2 linked regions of the Homo sapiens genome follow. The protein of the gene in region 2 purifies or fractionates together with the protein of the main gene of each other region. This does not show direct contact. Each region holds a gene or a part of one and is shown on either strand. Other genes may lie near its edges.

What was found. The genes of interacting proteins can lie anywhere in the genome.
Region 1: the proteins of CYB5D2 (region 2) and FZD6 purify together in Homo sapiens (co-immunoprecipitation; one large-scale study listed by IntAct). This does not show direct contact.

The regions. Positions count from the first base shown.
Region 1 is NC_000008.11:103,322,898-103,326,397, reverse strand, and holds part of FZD6 (frizzled-6 isoform a precursor), read right to left. Parts: intron 1,918-3,500; coding exon 900-1,917; intron 1-899. UniProt on the Homo sapiens protein: Receptor for Wnt proteins.
Region 2 is NC_000017.11:4,155,523-4,158,372, reverse strand, and holds the end of CYB5D2 (neuferricin isoform 1 precursor), read right to left. Parts: intron 2,427-2,850; exon of another isoform or gene 2,180-2,426; intron 1,508-2,179; coding exon 1,291-1,507; 3' UTR 676-1,290; downstream 1-675. UniProt on the Homo sapiens protein: Heme-binding protein which promotes neuronal but not astrocyte differentiation.

The sequences.
Region 1 (3,500 bases), on a different chromosome or scaffold from region 2:
TCTTATTAAGTATATAGTAAAAACAAACTATGGATAATAGATTATGGACAACGTATAAGGCAAGTAAAACTAGTATCCCCACATACCAACATAAAAAATAGATTCCACAATGTTATAAAGCAGTAACTTTCTGAAATATAAGCTATTATATGAAATAGTTTGACATTCCCATTGCTTAATTTGATACACTGTGATGGCAGTGCTCATGTTCAATGCAGTTAATACCGCACAGAGTCAGGAATAATGTCTAAAATCTACTAAAACAAAACCAAATTTCTATTTACAAAACTTCAACTAAAATGCTTTAAGAAATTTTATATTTTCAGAAATTTACTTTTATTAATTTTAAAAACACCACCCTTATACTAATCATAAGAATCAGAAATAGATAAAGCATATTTTGTTACAACTGTGTTTTTTTCAATTGAGAAATGACAGATGAGTCAGGCAAAAAGCAAATTCTGTTTTTGTAAGTATATACTATGTAAAAAGCTATAAGATAATATGATCAAATTAAATATATCCAAATAAGATTTTTTACTACTAACTAAAAAATTAAAAATAATTGCCAATGCGACAAAAGTGACTTCTGTTTTTCTCCCAATGTCAAGGTCTGTTCTTCTGACTCTGCTCTTTATTGCTATTAATCTGCCTTTGCAGCTCAATTTAATTTTTCAGAGAATAAAGGAAGTGCTTTACTATACAACTGAAGCTAAAGCTTGAGGAAGGAAGTCATGAAACATTCATCCCAGTTTCAGTTGATGTATAGGAAATCCTTACCTATGGCTCTTGTATTTTCTCACCTGAAATCAACTTTTACATCCATGACAAGTATATTTCCATGAAACATTTTCTACATTAAATGTAAATAGAGACATAATCCAAGTGATAGCTTTTACCTGATAAGGACATGGGATATGGTACTGACGACAATGATCAGAGACCCAAGTTATCTCCCAGGTAATCCTGTTCACTTGCTCATAGACGTAACATCCGAGAAGTGTCACTAATGGCACAAGATACAAGCCGCTGAAGACTCCAATTCGAATCATAAATTTCTTTAGTTTTTCTTGGTTCCGGCCATCATGTTGTATGACTTGTCGAACATGATTTAAGGAAATAATGCCAGCTAAAAGAAGAGAGAGCCCAACAAACACACAAAGGCACAGTGGCAAGAGTACAAAGTAGCGAGAAGCATCCAGGTCATAAAGGCCAACAAAGCAAACTCCACTAATGTTGTCTCCTTCAACTTTGTTCATAGCAAGAAGCATAACAGTCAGGAAACCTGGTGTTCCCCATGCAACAGCATGAAACCACACTGCTTTTTGCTCGATGGCTTCACAACTCCATTTTCTTCCTGCAGCTAAGAACCAAGTAATGGTAAGAATCACCCACCACACAGTGCCAGCCATTGTGAAAAAATACAAAAGCATGAACAAAACGGTGCAAGCCTTATTTTGAGAGCCTAGGACAACAGTGTCACCAAGTTCTAGCTTCTCATCTGCCTTATTGCAGGCTGTGCTATCGCCTAGCAAAAATCCAATGAAGTACATAAGAGATACAATGCTGTAACAGACAGAGTAATATATAATTGGTCTCTCTGGGTATCTGAATCTTCTAACATCAATTAAAAAAGTAAGGAATGTGAACAGAGTTGCACAAAGACAAAATATTGAAACTGTTCCAATAAAACTTTTTGCAAACTCTAGCTCATCACTTTTAAAATACATGTTGGGGCATGGAGGCGCACACTGGTCAATTCCCAGAAACTTATATCCTTGTCCCCCAGAAGTCTTAAGATGCCTTGGACACCAAAATCCAATGTCTCTTTGGACTTGTTCTGTTTTCTTCTGAGGACCAAGAAATTCTGTGTGTGGATCAAAAGTTACAGGAACAGTCTCATCACAGTATTGTAATCTGTAAAGATTATAAAAATTAAATATATGAAATCAACATTTTTATTGATTCAATATATTAAGCAATGCTTTCCAACTATAAAATATTACCTTATGTATTCATGATTGATGGGAAGAGATACAAATCTAAATGGATTACAGATAAGAGTTGAGTAGAAATTTTTGAAGTTGACTAAAAACTTGTGGCTGTTAATGGGGCCTCAACACAATAATTTATATTAAATACAAAGCAGGTGAACATGAAAATGCACTTACTTGGAAAAAATTAGCCAATTCATAATTTTAAAATAATTTCTGTTTTTAAGACTAAATATTTAAAAGAATTTATCTTAATTGGTAGGCTCCAGATAAGTACTGGCTTGTCTCTTTATAGCATATGAAATATGTCTTTATATCATATGAAATATATCTTGTCTATTCACTTTTATTTTCTAATGTCCATAAGAAAAGTAAAGCAACCATATAACTAAAGTGATGATAATTAAAATGAATGAAATGAGATCCTTCCCTGGATTGACAGGATAGAGTTCAAGTTTTTAAAGACAGGCAAGTATACCAGCAAGAGGCAGGCTGAGGACCAGCTTAATGAACATCACCATTTTGTTCAGGTTGGGCTCTTTGCCTCCCTTGTTTATGGACAGTCCTGAGTGATAGATGGAGATATTTCCATCTCTTTATCACTAAGTTGAGTTTGTACATACCAGTATTATTTTGGGGGATCTATAATGGTTTAAAAAGTATTGGAGGTTTTGGCCAGGTACGGTGGCTCATGCCTATAATTCCAGCACTTTGGGAGGCTGAGGCAGGTGGATAACTTGAGGTCAGGTGTTCAAGACCAGACTGGCCAACATGGCGAAACCCCATCTCTACTAAAAATACAAAAATTAGCTGGGCGTGGTGACAGGTGCCTGTAATCCCAGCTACTTGGGAAGCTGAGGCAGGAGAATCACTTGAACCTGGGAGGCGGAGGTTGCAGTGAGACAAGACCGAGCCACTGCACTCCAGCCTGGGAGACAGAGAGACTCTGTCTCAAGGAAAAAAAAAAAAAGTACTGGAGGTTTTAAATGAGAAAGCATTTTAAATATACCTTAGATAAGAACAGACTAAAACATATGCCCATAAAATGAAATACAAAAAAAACTACCAGCTTTATTAAAACATAATATTATGTCAATTTTGCTTTATATCTTTTAAAATAAAGCAATATAACATTATAGATACAGTGGGGACCCTTTCTGGTCTTAGTTCCTTCTCTCTCTCCTCAGAAGTATTCATTACCACAAATTCGGTGTTTACTCTCAAGCATTTTAAAATATTTTTATTACATTATTTACTAACTATAACCTTATAAAGTATTGTTTTTCAGGTTTTGAACTTTATATAAATGACACCATGCTGTATATAGCATGCTATAACTTACATTTTAAAATTTAACACTATATTTTCTAGATTTATCCATGTCGACAGATGTGGGTCAACTACATTCATTTTATCAACTGTATGGTAGTATTCCAGTGTGTAAGTACATCACAATTTACTAATCATTCTTCTATGATGGACTTTTAGATTTTTTCCCATTAAAAG
Region 2 (2,850 bases):
AAGCAAAGCTAGTGAGTATAAGCCAAAACTGGAGTTGAGGGAATGTTTATGATGTGAGAGAAGTGAGCTGTTTGATGCATACCTGGGGGAAGATCCAGGAGACGGGGAGAGGTTAAAGGTACAAGAGGGGCAGGTGAGGAGGATGGCGGGGGCAGGCAAAAGGAGCCATGAGCCAGAGCCCAAGTGTAAGGAACAGCTGTGGCCATAGGGGCAATAAGCCCGGGTCTGCCAGTGAGGGGACAGGGGCAGTGAGCACGGGTCTGCCAGTGAGGGGACAGGGGCAGTGAGCACGGGTCTGCCAGTGAAGGGGACAGGGGCAGTGAGTACGGGTCTGCCAGTGAAGGGGAGGCAGCCTCCATTTTCTAGTCTGTGAATCTGGAAAGCGATTTAGTGAAATGAATGATGGAGAAAAAGGAGACAGTGACAGAGAGGGAGGAAGCTGGTGGATGTTGAGGGTGAGACTGAGCGGCAAAGGGAGCTGGGTGGAAGCTCTGATGAGGCGATGCACAGAGGCCGTGGCGCTGTCTGTGGTAGTGCTGGTCCCACTTCTCTGTCTGAAGTAGGAACACTCCTTGCCCCCATCTACCTTCACAAGTAGTCAAGAGGTAACAGGTATGACATTGCCAGATGACGCTGGACATACAAACCACTGGACAAGCAGCAAGCCCAGCCACCTTAAGTTTGAAGCCTTGCCCAAGCTTTAATGTCATGCTAACCAGTTACCTTGTTAGAGCTGGGAAGCCACCTTTTGCTCAAAATGCAGACTTCTGCCTTTGAAAACACACCACACCTGATTTTAAGTGCTTAAAGGACAGAAAATGTCGTTGCTTTAAATTGTTGCTTTGTTCAGAGACATCTGGATTTGCTGTATCCATACAAGCAAAAGCTTTTCCAATTCCAGAATCAACCCACACTAATTTGTTATTGCCTCGTACTGTATTGGCCCAGCTGTAATCAACTCAGCAGGCTTTTGGTTGTAAATTCAAGTGGAAATTGAGTTGGTCTTATTTGTGCCCGTTGATATCTGAGGGCTGTGAGGAAGATGGCCAGTAGGTCAAAGGGAATAGTGTTGAAAAGCTGACCAGTACTGGGCAGGTGGCCGGCTGTCCCTCAGGCACCACAACGCCGAGCCACGGTAAGGGGCATGAGCCACATTTGCAGAATATAGCCAGAGTCCTTCCAGACCCTCCTGATTCGCGCCAGGAGGCATCCCAGGGCACACAAGTGTCAAGGGCCTACTCAGGTGCTTGGCAGAGCTCTCTGTGTGTTATTAACAGAAGAGGCTACGGCTTAGAGTGGAAAGGAGCATGTGATGGCTAGCGGTGGGCAGCCTGTGTACTCTGCCAAGTTTGGGTGGTCCAGGTCCCCACGATTTCTGTGTGGAGGGTTGTCCGGCATCTGGCCACTAGGGGGGCCGGTGGTTCTCACACACACGCAGCGGGGCTCCTTAGCACCTGGCTTATACAGCTTCCTGGGGACGCCAATCCAGTCTCTGCTCACACCTCCACTAAGGATAGACGGAAAGAGGACTTCTTAAATGTGAGAACTCATGAGTCTCTGGGAAGGGGAGAGCAGGAAGCAGAGAGCCAGGCCTTCTGAAAAGTAGAAGCCTACCAGAGTGTTTCCCAAGGCAGCAGGCTACAGCGCTCAGCCCCTGAGCCTTCATGCTCTCTCCTAACATCCTCCAGCTTCCCCTGCAGGGCCACCACCACCTTCCCCAGGCCAAGGGCACAGTCCATGGTTCCTTTCACTGTGCTCCCCAGCCCCTGCCCTGCCCCTTCTTAGGAGGCAGCACCACGTTCCTGCACTGGTGGCAACAGCTGTGAAAGGGCTTCCCCTGCTGGCCTGTGAGCTTCTCAGAAGCAGTGTCTGGGTGCGACTGTCCTCTTCCTTCCCCACTACAACCCAGCGCAGGTCAGGGTCTTCACCTTCTTCTCTGGGGCACTTGGCTGGGGGTGGGCAATTGGGCCCTGGCCCTTGGCCACCTGGGTCGGCCTTCTCTGGGAAGCCCTTGGCATAGAGTGTAGCTGCAAGCTGTCCTGTGCCCCACAGGTCCAGTCCTTGATGGCACTAGGCTTCAGACACGGAGGATTCAGCTGTGGCCCAACAACCTGAGCACCCTCCTATCTTGGGCAGGGGCCTTGCCCACCTCAGGGCACTGGGCTCAGTCTCTGATGGACTCAGAGGCCTTGCAAGAAAGAAACTGAGGTTCTTGGAACTGACGCCTCAGACAGCTTCCGGTGCCTGCTGTCAGAGAAACTGCCCCCAGCGAGAAAACATCCTACTTCTAGCTTACCAAGAACAAGGCTGTCACCCAAACGCCTCCCTCTTCTACCCAGCCTCCATCCCATCATTGGGGATCTGTACTCCACACCTTGTCCCTGCCTTCGGCACTTGTTCCTCTCAGTCTAATGGGACACACACAGGTGAACAGAAGACAACAAACTGAGCTGAGGCACAGGGATAGGGCCCCGCAGTTCACTAGGGTGGCCCTGGAAGGGTTTTGTGGGGAAGGCAGAGCCTGAACTACTCAGTCATGAAAGCAAGAAGAGGTTCAGGAGACACAGGGGAAGGCTGTGGGGAGGGAAAAGGAGGCAGGGCCCAAGGAAGCAAAGTCAAGCATCTGAACGCACGCAGGCCTCCTGGAGTCTCCTCCTCCTGGAGTCTCAGAGACCAGTGCTCTCTGAGGCTACCTGCATTCAGGCCTGTGTCACAGGAAGGCCCACGCCTATCTTAGCTTCTCTCCATAAAGTGAGCAGGCCAGGTTCTCACAGTCCCCTCTTTCTTGAGATGACACTGGAGAAGCTGTCTCTTCAAAGCTAGCGGCCAGGAAAGAAGGAGCTTTCCTTC